Linked DNA regions of Homo sapiens. The protein of the gene in region 2 purifies or fractionates together with the protein of the main gene of each other region. This does not show direct contact. Each region holds a gene or a part of one and is shown on either strand. Other genes may lie near its edges.

Region 1 (3,927 bases), on a different chromosome or scaffold from region 2:
TCACAGTGTCTAAACTGGAAAAAGTGAGACTGAAGTAGACAACCAGTTTCCCCCACCATCTTGGGGTCCTGACAGAAGACCTGTCCCTGACCCAATCCATGGGAAGCATCATGAGTACACAAAGGGAGAAACAGCCCTGAGGACACTCAGAGACAGATGGGGAAGGCAGGACTACCATTCCCAGTCTTGGAAACTCTGCTCTTTAACTTAGTCAAAGGAGACACCAAATCAGAGTACTTGTTCGGCAGGACCACTAGGTAGGAGGTACGTTCCACAGGTCCCCTGGGCACAAACCCCTAGCCAGCCTTTCTACACTGCTGAGATATCACCTTTGGGACCTCCCCAATTCCTAACAGGCAACACTCTGATCCTTTACTAGGGCAGAGGCAAAGCTGGAATTAAGCCTCCATCTAGTGCCAAAAAAGAGGCAGAGTGACCTAGCAGAAAAAAAAAAAGAAATTCAACAGGTAAGTTACAAAGAATCTCTAAGCAAACATGTCCAATAAAAACCAAACTAGTCAGAGAAGACTAAAATAAATAAATAATGTTTCAATGCAAAGACATAGATGTACATCCAAAAGAAACAACAGCAAACCATTATCTCCTCAAATGGACAAAGCAAGGAACCAGTGACTAACCCTAACGAGAGAGTGATATGTGAGCTCTTGGACCATGAATACAAAATAGTGATTTTATGGAAACTCAGTGACATCCCAAATAACACAAAAAATCAATCTAGAAATGTATCAGAGAAAATTAACAGAGTTTGAAACAATAAAAAATCAAACAAATCTTGGTGGAACTGAGAAATACGTTTGCTGAACTAAAAAATTCATTAGAGGCTCTCAACAACATAGTGGATCAAGCAGAAAAAAACAATCAGTAAGCTAGAAGGCAGGCTATTTTAAAACACATAGATGAGGAAAAAAAATAATAAAAAGGAATGAAGATTGCCTAGAAGATATAGAAAATCACCTCAAAAGACTAAATCTAAGAATTACTGGTATTCAAGGAGCTGAGCAAGAGCAGGAGTAGAAAGTTTATTCAAAAAAATAAAGCTTCCCAAAATCTAAGAAAAATATCAATATTCAGGCCAGAGAACACGAACAGATTTGACCTAAATAAAACTACCCCAAGGCATATAATAATCAAACTCTCAAATGTCAAGGACAAAGAGAGGCTCTTAACAGTAGCAAGTTAAAAAAAAGCAAATAACATATAAAGGAGCTTCAATTTGTTTGGCAACAGACTCCACAATGGGAACCAAATAAGCCAGGAGAGAGTGGGATGACATTTTCAAAGTGCTGAAAGAAACAACTGCCATTGAAGAATATTATATTCAGCAAACCCATCCTTCAACTACAAAAAAGGAAAGATAAAGTCTTTCCCAGACAAACAAGCACTGAGAAAATTCACCATCACCAGACTCATTTTACAAGAAACACTAAAGGGAGTTCTTCAATCTCAGAGAAAAAAAATGTGCAAAAAGAAAACATTTAAAGGTATAAAACTCATTGCTAGTCTATTACAGGCACTGTGGTTCATGCCTGTAATACTAGCTACTTGGAAAGCTAAGTCAGGAGGACTGCCTGAGGCCAGGAGTTTAAGACTATCCTGGGCAACATCATAAGACCTTATCTCTAAAAAAAATTTTTTTTCTAATTACCTGAGCATGGTGGCAAATGCCTGTAGTCCCAGATACTTGGGAGGCTAAGGTGGGAGAATCATTTGAGCCCAGGAGTTCGAGACTACAGTGAGCTATGATTATGCCACTGCACTCCAACCTCGGTGACAAGGCAAGACCCTGTCTCTGAAAACAAAAATAAAATAAATAAAATCCTCTGGTAAAGGTAAGTACATAGATAAACCCAGGATGCTCTAATACTATAATTGTTTTTGGTCCTCCCATAATTCTAGTATGAAGTCTAAAAGACAAACTTGTTAAAAACAATCGTAGCTACAGCAACCTGTTAAGAGACAGGCAATATAAAAATATGTAAGTTGAGACAATAAAAAGTCAAAATTTTAGGGGTGATAGAGTTAAAGTGTAGAAGTTTTTAAATTTCTTTGTTAGTTTCTATTTTTTTCTTTGCTATCTAAGATAAGTTGTCATTGTTTTAAAATAACTTGTCATAGCTCTAAAACTTTTTAATAAACCTCACGGTAACCACAGTGCAAAAACCTATAATAGATACACTAAAAATAAACAGCAATTAATTAAAACATACTATCAGAGAAAATCACTTAACCACAAAAGAACACAGAAAGGAAAAGAGAGGAGTACAAAACAACCACAAAACATGCAATAAAATGGCAATAATAAGTTCTTACTTACCAATAATAACACTGAATGTAAATGAACTCAAGTCTCCAATTAGAAGACACAGAGTAGATGACTGGATAAAGAAACAAGACCAAACCATACAATTCCCACAAGAAATCCACTTCACCTACACAGACACACATAACACTCTAAGTGAAGGGCTGGAAAAAGGTATTCCATGCAAGGGGAAACCAGAAAAGAGCAGGAGTAGCTAACATATCAGATAAAATACGACTATAAGTCAAAGACTCCAAAAAGTGAGCAAGAAGGTCACTATATTATGATAAACAGGTCAATTCAGCAAAAGGATATAACAATTAATATCTAAGCATCCAATACCAGAATACCCAAGTCTATAAAGCAAATATTGATAGACATAAAGGGAGAGATAGAGTGCAATATAATAATAGTAGGAGACTTCAACACCCTACTCTCAGGAAAGGACAAATCATACAGACAGAAAATCAACAAAGAAACAGGGGAGTTAAACTAGACCAAATAGGCCTAATTGACATTATAGAATATTTCACCCAACTGCTGCAGAACAGACAATCTTTTCATCAGCATATGAAACATTCTCCAGAACAGACCACATCTTAGGCCACAAAACAAGTCTCAAAAAGTCAATTAAGTAGAAATCATATCACATATCTTTTGTAACCACAATGGAATAAAACTTGAAATCATTAACAAGAGGAACCTGGGAAACAATACAAAAAATTAATTAATTGTTTGATTTAATTTGGAGTAAGTTCAAATCAAATGACTTGTTCCTGGCAGGGCATGGTGGCTCATGCCTATCATCCCAGCACTTTGAGAGGTCAAGGTGGAAGGACTGTTTGAAGCCAAGAGTTTGAGGCCAGCCTGGGCAGCACAACAATACCTGGGCTGGCTGGGCTTGGTGGTGTTATGCCTATTGTCCTAGCTACTCAGGAGGCTGAGGCAGGAGCATCACCTGAACCAAGGAGATTGAGGATGCAGTGGGTCATGATCACACCACTGCACTCCAACCTAGGTGACAAAGTGAGACGCTGTCTCTATTTAAGAAGGGAATTTAAAAATATTCTGAATCAAATGACAATGGAAACACAAAATACCAAAATCTATGGGATAAAGCAAAAGTAGCAGTACCAAGAGAGAAGTTTACAATAATAATTGTCTACATCAAAAAAGGAGAAAGATTTCAAATAAATAACCTAACAATGCATCTCAAAAACTAGAAAAGCAGGAACAATCCAAACCCAACATTAGTAGAAGAAAATAAATAATGAAGATAAGAACAGCAGTAAATAAAATTGAGACTAAAAAAATACAGGTCAACAAAAGTTGTTTTTTCAAAAAGATAGATGAAATTGACAAAACTTTAGACAAATAAAAGAAAGAAAATTCAAATAAATAAAAACAGAAATGAAAAAGTAGACATACCAACTGAGACCACAGAAATACAAAGAATCATTATATACTATTATGAGCAACTATACGCCAACAAATTGGAATAGCTAGAAGAAATTAATAAATTCCTGGACACTTACAACCTACCAAGATTGAAACATGAATAAACTGAAAACCTGAACAGACCAGTAAGTAATAAGATGGAAGCTGCA
Region 2 (3,927 bases):
ATCATGCACACACACTTAGCAAAAAGCCTGAACCCCAGTTAGAGTCTGGGCTCCCTGACCTTGAAGCCAGTGATCTTTTTACTAAGGTGGTGGCGGGGGTTGAGGAGCAGGGGTTGCCATTGCTGCTGCCTGCCTGGCTCTCTGAGTTTATAGATGGGCAAACTCGACTATAGAAAGGTTTAGGTGTCTTAGCCAAGGCAGCACAGATGAAATATGGCCCTAAAATCCTGCTTAATGATTGTTCACTTTATAGCTCCCATTCATTCCAGACATAAAATCAGAATGTGCCCTCTGTGCACCTCCTCCCCTCCATTACCACGGGGCACATTTACTTTAGATGCTGGATCCATTTATTCTGCCCCTTGGTGCTCAGAGCTTGGGTATAACCCTGCCCAACTGATTCTTTTGTGTTAGATTGAAAATCAGACTTGAAACTGAATTCCTGCTAAGGTGTTGATGATGGATAACTATCATTCAATACTATTTCAGTGATGGTGGTATTTTAGTAGCTGTCCTCTGGATACTCAAAGAAGTGGTAGAGTGGTGTAATGGCTAAAAACTGAGGCTGTGGGTTTGAATGTCTTTATGGCTCTGACATACTACAGAGCTAATACTTAGCCTGGTGCTTAAGAGATGTGATTCAACATAAGACAAATCTTGGCTGTGGAGAGGGGGTAATGAGTAGCACCTGTCCCTGAGGGTGCCCATATTAAGAGTCAGTTAATTAGTATTTATAGAGTCTTTGAAACTGTCATCTACTTAACATCATCCAGAAGGGTGGCTCTCAAATGGTGAGATTTCAGCTTTCATGCTGGTGGTTCTCTGCTGTGCTTCTCAAATCTGACCCTATAGATGTCACCTGGTCAACTTTCTTGCCATGGTGACTATCCTTCTTCACATGTATAGGGAAAGCCCCTCTGGGGCTTAAGGAGCTTGTGACATAGTTTTCAAGGTGTCTTTCTCCAGATCTTTTTGCATATTTGCAATAACCATGATTTTTCTCTCAGTGTATTTGCTGAATTGTTCTTTCTTTTTTTTTTCTTTTGAGACAGAGTCTCCCTCTGTCACCCAGGCTGGAGTGCAGTGGTGCAATCTTAGCTTACTGCAATCTCTGCCTCCCTGGTTCAAGCGATTTTTGTGCCTAAGCCTCCTGAGTAGCTGGGATTAAAGGCGCCCGCCACCATGCCTGGCTAACTTTTGTAGTTTTAGTAGTAGAGATGGGGTTTCTCTATGTTGGCTAGGCTGGTCTTGAACTCCTGAACTCAGGTGATCCACCCACTGTGGCCTCCCAAAGTACTGGGATTTCAGGCATGAGCCACCGTTCTCAGCCGAATTGTTCATTTTGAGTAGCTCCAAGAAGGGGTTTAAAAATGGATGTCATTTATCCTAACATGATGAATTCGTTCATGAAAAATTACAATTGGACCCATGTTTTGACATATCCCCGACCTAAAGGAGCAGAGAATAGGTGGTTGTCATCTTAGCCCCAGTTCTCACCAGTAGCTGCTATGAACTGGAGCGACTGGCAAAAAAGAAGCAATCTCAAAACAACCGTGTGAGGTAGAACTGTTATTATTCTGTATCGCAGCTGAGGACACTGAAGCACAGGGTGGATAAGTGACTTGCCTGAGGTCATGCCTCCTGTCAGGGATGGAGTCATCATTATGTCCTTATTTGACCGGAAGCTGGTGACATTTTTGGGGTATGGAGTGTGTTGGGGGGCTTGTGATCTCTCAGGTAGCTCTCACTGCTCTTTTTCCCCTTAGGGTCCGAAAGATTCTAAACCTGCGTGTATTTGAGGATGAGAGTGGGAAGCACTGGTCGAAGAGTGTGATGGACAAACAGTACGAGATTCTGTGTGTCAGCCAGTTTACCCTCCAGTGTGTCCTGAAGGGAAACAAGCCTGATTTCCACCTAGCAATGCCCACGGAGCAGGCAGAGGGCTTCTACAACAGCTTCCTGGAGCAGCTGCGTAAAACATACAGGCCGGAGCTTATCAAAGGTAAGCAGGAGAGCCACATCCAGGAACGGGTCTTTGGGACACTCCTGGATGGAGAGAAAAAAGAAGCTGCAACTGCAGCATCTCCTTTTCTGGAAAGTCATTGTTTATGCTTGTTACTTACTTAGAACCACATACTAGCTGCTGCTATTGCTGCTGTTGTACTTAACACATGTCCTCAGAATGCTTCTGCTGGCATTTGCCCTCCTCCCTTCTTCTGTTCACATTTTGAAAATGTTTGGGAACCCAGAGGTGTGGCTAATACAGTGGTATTTCTTTGATTGTTTAGCTTAGCCCTGTCCAATAGAAGTATAGTGCAAGCCTCAAATGTGAGCCAAATATGTCATTTTAAGTTCTTGTAGCCATATTTAAAAAAATAAAAAGAAATAGGTGAAATTAATTTAAAAAATATATTTTATTTAACTGAATATATTCAAAATATGATTTTACTATGTAGTCGTTATAAACAATGATGAGGTAGTTTACATTCTCTTTTTTTTTTTTCTAAATAAAGGCTTTATTTGATTAGAGCAGTTTTAGGTTCACAGTAAAATTGAGAGGATGGTACAGAGATATTCCATATATCTCTGCCCCCGCATGCATAGGCTCACTCATTATCAACATCCACCACTAGAGTGGTGCATTTGTTACAACTGATGAACCTAAGTTCATTGTTGGATTATAACTGTTGTTCATGGCACATCATTATCACCCACAGTCTCCTGTTGGCACTAGGGTTCACTCTAATATTCTCTGGGTTTGGGCAAATTTATAATGACATGTGTCTACCATTACAGTATCATACAGAATATTTTTTATTTTATTTTTATGATTTTGTTTCTTTTTCTGTTCTGGCTTCTCAATAAGCTTTTTTGACCTAGTCTCATAGACTCTCTCTTTTAGTAGATGAGAGAAAGTGTGTGTGTGTGTGTGTGTGTGTGTGTGTGTGTGTGTGTGTGTGTATAGAGAGAAGGAGCTATAGATGGTGTTTTTGTTCTCCTAATGGTTATTTCTAAGTTTTTAACATTCATGAATAGTTACAAAAATTTCTATCAAAATTTATAAGGATCTTAGTATATTTGAACATCCCCTTTTCCTTTCTAGTTCCACTTTTTAAAATGACTTTATTAAGATATAATACACATACTGTACAATTCACCTATTTAAAGTGTACAAGTCAATTTTTTTAGTTAAGAGTTGTGCAACCATTGCCACAATCTAATTTTATAACACTTTTGTCCCACTTAAAAGAAATCCTGTACTCATCAACAGTACTAGCCTACTCCCACTCTCTTCTTTGTTGCCCCAGTCCTAGGCAGCCATTAATCTACTTTCCGTCTCTTTAGATTTGTCTATTCTGAACATTTTATGTAAATGGAATTATATAATGTGTGGTTTTGTTCCTGGCTTCTTTCACTTAGCATAATGTTTTCAAGGTTCATCCATGTTGCCACTTTTCTTTTCATCATAATCATAATCACTTTTAATCATAATTTATTTATAATCTGTAACTGGCTGTATTTGATAATATATTTTATCAATTTCTGTGGTCACCAACCTGTCTTGCTTCCTTCTTTGGGCTCTTCTTTCTGAAGTACATTCTATGATATATCAGTTGTTTACTAAGAATGTGTTAGTGGAACATAGTCATTGTAGGTTTTAAAATGTTTTTATTTTGCCTTAATTCTTTATGATTGCTTAGCTGGGCATGGAATCCTAGCTTGACAGTTCTTTTCTCCCAACATTTTGTCTTTTTTTGTAAAAAAATTATTAGTATACTTTAAGTTCTGGGGTACATGTGCAGAACGTGCAGTTTTGTTACATAGGTATACATGTGCCATAGTGGTTTGCTGCATCCATCCACCCGTCACCTACATTAGTTATTTCTCCTAATGCTATCCCTCCCCTAGCCCCCCACCCCTCAACAG
Region 3 (3,927 bases), on a different chromosome or scaffold from region 2:
TCTTCTGGTAAATTTAATATGTTCTTTTTTAACCATTTGATTCCCACAGAAAAATAACTAGATATACTGATATAAACATGGAAGATTTCAAGTGTCCTATTTTTCTTGGTTGCATAATCTGTGTGACTGGCTTATGTGGCTTAGACAGGAAAGAAGTTCAGCAACTCACAGTTAAGCATGGAGGTCAATACATGGGACAATTGAAAATGAATGAATGTACACACCTCATTGTGCAAGAACCAAAAGGTAAAACTGTGTTTCACAAAGGGACAAATGAAACATTTTCTCTAGTATTTAATATTTTATTTTTATTTATTTATTTATTTATTTTGAGACAGAGTCTTGCTCTATTGCCCAGGCTGGAGGGCAGTGGCACAATCTCAGCTCACTGCAACCTCTGCCTCCCTTGATCAAGCGATTCTCCCAACTCAGCTTCCCGAGTAGCGGGATTACAGGCACCTGCCACCACGCCTGAATAACTTTTTATTTTTAGTAGAGACGGGCTTTCACCATGTTGGCCAGACTGGTCTCTAACTGACCTCAATTGATCTTCCCACCTCAACCTCCCAAAGTCCTGGGATTACAGGCATGAGCCACCGTGCCCAGCCACTAATATTTAATATTTTAAAATCTTTACAGAACAGCTTTTACTTCTGACATGTCATTAATCTAGTTTGATACTGTTTTCTCTAACATCTTGCAAAGATGTTTTCTCTAACATCTTGCAAAGTTTTAACTGGAAGACACACCTTGCGGCACATGAGGCAGTAAAAAATGAAAAAGACATTACGAACAAGAAAAATTCTTTAAAATTGCTATTAAGTTTGGTGTTACATAACATTATTCTGGATAATTTTTTATCAGCACTCTTAAAATATACACAAATTGATAAAAGATGAGTTTTGTTAATGTTTTTATTATTGCCCTTTATATGTATACTGTGTTTTACTAAGCTATCTAGATTGAGAAGAAATTACGATTAAATGGTAATTGTCCTTAAGTCAGAACTTTGAGTATGGCTGATTGTGATAGGATCACTGTGAGTAGAGTTGATACTGCTGTTCTTTTTCTGAATCTGAAGACAGTTCATTGTTGATTCTCTCAAGAATGCCAAAAAACCTTTCATGTGACATATTGACCTCAATTCCTCTGTGATACTGCTTCAAAATACATTGTGTTGAAGATTTTTAAGGTAATAAAAGATACATATTTTCAATATAATTTATCTTTTGGCTTATCTATCCTGGACTTTAAGTAGAAGCCTGTTGACATTGGAATAGTCTGTTCAAAGTTGGGATTTATTATATAGCACAAATTTACAATTTTCACATTGTACAAGCTGGTTTAAAGAAATTAAGTGATGGAGCCTATATGCAAACCCAAGTCCAATATTAATTAAGTTACCCCACAGTTGCTTCTGTCTTCCTGCAGTTTGTATAAAAGATAAAACCTCTCACATGGCATATGTATTTATACTACACATAGAAAATATAATTAGGCAATAAGCTAAAATACTACTTTGTAATAAACTGTGTAGCATACTGTTTAAGAGTAAGTACTGGTAACTTTAATTTTGTTGATAGGTTTTTGAAATAACCTGTTATAGCCGGGCGCGGTTGCTCACGCTTGTAATCCCAGCATTTTGGGAGGCCAAGGCAGGCGAATCACCTGAGGTCAGGAGTTTGAGACCAGCCTAGCCAACATGGTGAAACCCCGTGTCTACTAAAAATACAAAAAAATTAGCCAGACATGGTGGCACACGTCTGTAATCCTAGCTATTCAGGAGGCTGAGGCAGGAGAATCGCTTGATCAGGAGGGAGGTGGAGGTTGCAGTGAGCCAAGATCTCACCACTGTACTCCAGCCTGGGCAACAGAGTGAGACTCCATCTCAAAAAAAAAAAAAAAATATTAACCTGTTATAATTTGAATATTTCTGCAAAGATAGATTGTAATGGTTTTCATTTCTTGGTTTCTCCTATTTTCTCTATTTCTTTCTTAATGAACGCCACAGGTCAGAAGTATGAGTGTGCCAAGAGATGGAATGTACACTGTGTGACCACACAGTGGTTTTTTGACAGTATTGAGAAAGGTTTTTGTCAGGATGAATCCATATACAAGACAGAACCTAGACCAGAAGCAAAGACTATGCCCAATTCTTCAACTCCTACCAGCCAGATCAACACAATTGATAGTGAGTCTCATTGAGATTAAAATAATTATTCTGAAGACAGTCATATTTCTATGTAATAATCAGTATGTTAATAGGATCACTGAGATAGGGAATTTCTTTTTCTTGTTTGCTGTGCTTCTAGGCATAATTGTATAATAGTCAAATTGTATAAAAAGTTAGCACTGAACTGTTCGTAATTTTCTTTTAGAATGAATGAATGCTGTCTTTTATACTCTGTTGTAATGCAAAAGATGATCAAAGAAATTAAGAACAATGGTAGCTGGGGGCTTAAGATAAAAGTATTAATCTTTTAAACATTACATGCATATATTAATCTTTCCTTAATTTACAGTTTTGCTGCAGTTATAGATCATCTGTATTTGTATAAAAATTAAAACCATTTCTATTTTGTAGGTGTCGTGTTGGCAAAATGTTTAAAATATTTTTTCAAATGTAAGCTTCTTGGACCTTAAAGTCAGCAACTTCAGATTTTTATGGGAAACAAGACACTATTAAGAAAATGTGTTAAATCTATTTTCATTTAAATAAGATAGGAGGCTTAATTAATTTCATTTTCCCTTTTTATACTTTGCCACTAAGATTTCAGTAAACACCCCTGAATCTTACTTTGGAAGTTGTTTATTGCCCTATATTTGTAAGAAAAGTTAATCCATAGACAATATGTAATCATGATTATTTTATCTCCCATAAATTTATACGTTTTCAAAATATGTAGGTCGTACTCTTTCAGATGTCAGCAATATTTCCAACATAAATGCAAGTTGCGTAAGTGAATCAATATGTAATTCACTTAACAGCAAACTGGAGCCTACACTTGAAAATCTAGAAAATCTGGATGTCAGTGCATTTCAAGCACCTGAAGATTTATTAGATGGTTGTCGGGTACGTCTTTATTATATAATACATGCAGTAGATGATATACATTAGCATTTCCTAGCCTGACTTTGAAGACCCTTCAGAGTTGGGCTTGCTCCTTACTATCTATGTAAACCCTCCACTCTAGCTAAGTAGATGCACTTACTAGACCATGTCCATCCTTTGGCTGCGAGAGTCCCTCTGCCTGCAAGGTATCTTCCTCTGTTATCTTTTAAAAGTTCATTTCAGGTTTTAACTCTTCTCTGAACCCTCCTAACTACATTAATCTTTTCATCTGCTATATTTCGAGAGCACTTAGTTTCTGAACAACTTATTGGATTTTTTTTTTTTAATTTTTTTGAGTTAGGGTCTCACTCTGTTGCCCAGGCTGGGATGCAGTGGCACAATCATAACTTCCTGTAACCTTGAACTCCTGGGCATCAGCCACCCCTCAGTCTCCCGAGCAGTTAGAACTACAGGCATGTGCCACTACACCTGGCTAATTTTTAAAATTTTTTTGTAGAGACAAGGTCTCACTATGTTGCCCAGGTTTGGACTTTAAACTATCATCCAAGTGTTTACAGTGTATTAGACACTGTGCTAATCATTTTATGTGTGTTAATATATATATAAAATCGCATTTAAGTCCCACAAATAACTCTAAAATGGATATTATCTTGAGGGTAAGACTTAGAGAATTAAAATTCTTGTTCAGAGTCACACAGAGAGACATTAAGTGGCCAGTTATCTACTCCAAAGTCTGTATTCCTCACCATTAGAGCCACTGCTTTGTTTGGTATTTCTTGGGTTATTTAGTTTTTTAGTATATGAATAACTGTCTTATAAGTTTGTTGATGGAAACAGCATATGCTATACTTTTT
Region 4 (3,927 bases), on a different chromosome or scaffold from region 2:
CTGTGTTCCCAGGATATGAAAGGCAGGGCCGCAGCTTCTGGCTTCACCGGGCTAATTTTTGTATTTTTAGTAGAGTCGGGGTTTCACCATGTTGGCCAGGCTGGTCGCCAACTCCTGACCTCAAGTGACTCGCCCGCCTCAGCCTCCCAAAGTGTTGAGGCTGAGGCCACCTCTGGCCCTCATTCTCTCAACATTCAAAAGCTTGTCACTTCATCCAGTTCCGAATTAACATTTTACTCTGGCTGATGATGAACGTCGGGGAGAAAGAGACATTTGTGCTGCATACGGGTTTATTGGTTATAAAATGGTTATACAATTTTGATTGCTGGAAACTTTGCTGACATGTAAGGTCACATGAGATGTGAGGCTGTTCAACTTTGATCATCTGATTTCTTTTTAGCACTGTGTCTGAAAGTGCCTATGTGCCGTTTTTGGTGAGACATATGTAGCATGGCTTCTGTAAAGGCACGTTGCTTTTTATTATAGTAATATTGTGGGCACAGAAAGGGTGAGGAGTTAGATGATTGGGAGAGTTTTTTCTTACTTAAAACACTTGTTTCATCAGAAAATATTTCCTAGCAGAGTTAGACATAGCTTTGTTCATAAAGTCCAGTGGTGAAGGGACTTCAGACTTTACGATAAACTAAATTTTATGATTGACTTTTGTGAGCAATTCACAGCTATAAAACTACGAGACTGGCTGGGCATGGTGGCTCACGCCTATAATCCCAGCACTTTGGGAGGCTGAGGCAGGTGGATCGCTTGAGCTCAAGAGTTCAACACCAGCCTGGGCAACATGGCAAAACATCGTCTCTACAAAAAAATTATCTGGGCATGGTGGCGCGTGCCTGTAGTCCCAGTTACTTAGGCTGAGGTGGGAGGATCATTTTGAGCCCAGGAGATTGAGGCTGCAGTGACCTGAGATTGTGCCACTGCACTTTAGCCTGGGTGACAAAGTGAAACCCTGCCTCAAAAAAAAAAAAAAATACCTACAAGAACATCTGGGTGATAACTCACTGCACACAGACATGCCTCCTTCAAAAGATCCAAGCTGACCACAAAAAAAAAGGAGAAACTGTCTTTTCTTGATAGTAAATTGGATGGAGACATTAGTAAGGTAGAAGGTGTCTGAGGGGCTTCTTCATGATAAAAAGCAAAAGGTTTTGGGGTGTCACTGACCCAAAATATTAGCAGAAATCAGATTTACTCTATTATTGAGGAACACAATACATTAAATTGTTTATAGATCCAGTTTCAAGAAAGAAGATGTTTATATTAAAAAAATGACAAAAGCTCCTTCAATTTTTTTGAGAACTAAGAAATAAGAGATTTTAGCAGTACTGCCAAAATAGAATTTGGATTTGAATTTAAGACACTGGTAAATGTGTGTGGAAGGATCGGTCTTGTTAATTACACCTTGGACCAAGGGCTGCTTGGAATGAATAAAAGAGGGGGAAAGGTTTAGACAAGTAGAATCTCTAGGTTGATATCAAGTTAGTATTTATAATCTTTGTAAATAAACCAAAACCTCTCAAAGACTCCTGCTGTCTCTTCCTGGAGAGCACTCTGAATTCTTTCCTGGCGGTCTCCCTTTTCCTTCCCCTCTCCCCAGGTTTAAGATCATTGGGACATCCTTTTGGTCAAGGAAATGTTTCTAAGAGTGACCTAGTTATTGGAATTTTAAGTGTTAATCAGGTCAGTGAGGTGCCATCTGTGAAACACAGCTCACCAAAACCCAATGTTTTTCATCAGAAGTTGTCATGGAAGTGAGTTGATTTTGGAAAAACAACAATAATAGCAATTTGCTTGATCCCTTTCTTATCCTCAAATAGCCAAATTAAATTCAAGATTATTGGCCAGGTGCAGTGGCTCACGCCTGTAATCCCAGCACTTTGGGAGGCCGAGGCAGGCGGATCACGAGGTCAGGATATTGAGACCATCCTGGCTAACATGGTGAAACCCCGTCTCTACTAAAAAATACAAATAATTAGCCAGGCGTGGTGGTGGGTGCCTGTAGTCCCAGCTACTCAGGAGACTGAGGCAGGAGAATGGCGTGAACCCGGGAGGCAGAGCTTGCAGTGAGCTGAGATCACGGCACTGCATCTCCAGCCTGGGCAGCAGAGCAAGACTCCGTCTCAAAAAAAAAAAAAAATTCAAGATTATTATCAGTGGAAAAAGGAAATCTGAAAATCTCTGAATGTTTAGTGGTCAATTAAAATGAGTCTTAGGGCAATTTAAAGTTTAGATACCTGAAACCAGTTGGCCTATGATCAGAACCATGGATGAGAAGTCAAAGTCTGTGATTCTGTTTCTGACCCCATGAGAAGGAAGGCCTTCTCTTCAGCTGTAGGTTTGATAATTAAACAAGATAGTGGATGTGAAAGTAACTAGTCAACTACAAGATAGAGGAAAGGCATTTATTGATGTTTAAAAAAGCTTTCTGATTTTACTTCCTTTCACTGATAAGTGGCCAAGACTTAGAGAATGACTTGCCTGCTGGAGGTTGCCTGATTTGAAACTGCCAGAAATTAAACTCATAACTGTGTCTTATAATTTCAACATTTGAAAAAATGTCAGGGTTAATTTTTTTGAGACAGAGTCTTGCTCCGTTGCTCAGGCTGGAGTGAGGGGCACAATCTTGGCTCACTGCAACCTTTCGCCTCCCGGGTTCAAGTGATTCTCCTGCTTCATCCTCCCCAGTAGCTGGGGTTACAGGCATGTGCCACCATGCCCAGCTAATTTTTGTATTTCTAGTAGAGACATGGTTTCTCCATGTTGTCCAGGCTGATCTCGAACTCCTGACCTCATGGGACTTCAGTCTAGCTCCAAATCTAGTGCTCTTGCAGTCAATTCATATTTTCTTCTGTTACTGACCATATGAAATAATTCCTCTATGAAATTTATGTGCAATTTTTATAAAAGTCTAAATGTATTTTATGGCTAACCCTCAACTATGGAGCATATTAACATTAAAATGAGTTCTTGAAATAAGAGTTGATTAACATGGGAAAATATCCATCTCTTTCATCTTGAACAAAGTAGTTTTGTTTTAAAACTTATACTTCCTGCTAATGTACATCTGGAATGTGTAGGATAAAAGATTAAACTTTCTAAATATTTTACAAAGTTATATTCTCCCTATGTGATATATATTGTTCTGTGGGAGACTAAGCCTTAATTGAAGTATTTCTGCAAGGTTACTATAAGCATTTCTCATACCACTAGGACAATAAATAATGGGAGAACCCAAAACATTGTAATTTTCTAGTAATTCAGAGGAAATAACTGAATCCTGAAACATTGTACAAAAGGGTACACAATGATACCCATTTTTGCATGTTAATGTATTATTAAATATCAGTGGGAATAGTCTGCATGCTATTTCACATCTCAGGCACACTTAAGGAAGACCTTGTGATGTGCATGTTGCTCATTTAATCTAGAAAGGATACCAAGATTCATTTAGAACTTCTTTATGCACAGTTTTTTTTTGAGTATGTTATGTCCTGAGGCATTAAGGGTATTACTAAAGCAAGCAGCGGGACTTCTCAGAGAAATTAAAGGTTTCATATCAACCACACGTTGTCAAAATCTTCACTTTGAATAGGATTAAATGATGTTTCATCAGTATTCTTGGCACACATGACATTGTTTTTAAAATAACAGTTTTATTACTCTTGGCTGTGACAGTTTCTCAGACTTTCCTTAATATCATACAATTCTCCAATTTAAACTGTATAGTCAGTTTTACAATATTTTAATTACCCTGTATTCATTAGCACTTTCCTCATTTTCTACTACCTCCTCCCCAGCTGCCCCTACCCTAGGCAATGCCAAATCTACTTTCTGTCTATATATTTGCCTATTCTTGAAATTTCAAATAAATGGAATCGTATAATATGTGGCCTTTTGCGTCTGGCTTATTTC

Evidence for each region. The genes of interacting proteins can lie anywhere in the genome.
Region 1: the proteins of DTD1 (region 2) and POLK purify together in Homo sapiens (affinity purification with mass spectrometry; one large-scale study listed by BioGRID and IntAct). This does not show direct contact.
Region 3: the proteins of DTD1 (region 2) and TOPBP1 purify together in Homo sapiens (affinity purification with western blotting; one study listed by BioGRID). This does not show direct contact.
Region 4: the proteins of DTD1 (region 2) and PLS1 purify together in Homo sapiens (affinity purification with mass spectrometry; one large-scale study listed by BioGRID and IntAct). This does not show direct contact.

The regions. Positions count from the first base shown.
Region 1 is NC_000005.10:75,518,297-75,522,223, reverse strand, and holds part of POLK (DNA polymerase kappa), read right to left. Parts: intron 1-3,927. UniProt on the Homo sapiens protein: DNA polymerase specifically involved in DNA repair. Plays an important role in translesion synthesis, where the normal high-fidelity DNA polymerases cannot proceed and DNA synthesis stalls.
Region 2 is NC_000020.11:18,594,240-18,598,166, forward strand, and holds part of DTD1 (D-aminoacyl-tRNA deacylase 1), read left to right. Parts: intron 1-1,766; coding exon 1,767-2,002; intron 2,003-3,927. UniProt on the Homo sapiens protein: Possible ATPase involved in DNA replication, may facilitate loading of CDC45 onto pre-replication complexes. An aminoacyl-tRNA editing enzyme that deacylates mischarged D-aminoacyl-tRNAs.
Region 3 is NC_000003.12:133,651,609-133,655,535, reverse strand, and holds part of TOPBP1 (DNA topoisomerase 2-binding protein 1), read left to right. Parts: intron 1-49; coding exon 50-246; intron 247-2,011; coding exon 2,012-2,191; intron 2,192-2,906; coding exon 2,907-3,073; intron 3,074-3,927. UniProt on the Homo sapiens protein: Scaffold protein that acts as a key protein-protein adapter in DNA replication and DNA repair. Composed of multiple BRCT domains, which specifically recognize and bind phosphorylated proteins, bringing proteins together into functional combinations.
Region 4 is NC_000003.12:142,602,799-142,606,725, forward strand, and holds part of PLS1 (plastin-1), read left to right. Parts: intron 1-3,927. UniProt on the Homo sapiens protein: Actin-bundling protein. In the inner ear, it is required for stereocilia formation. Mediates liquid packing of actin filaments that is necessary for stereocilia to grow to their proper dimensions.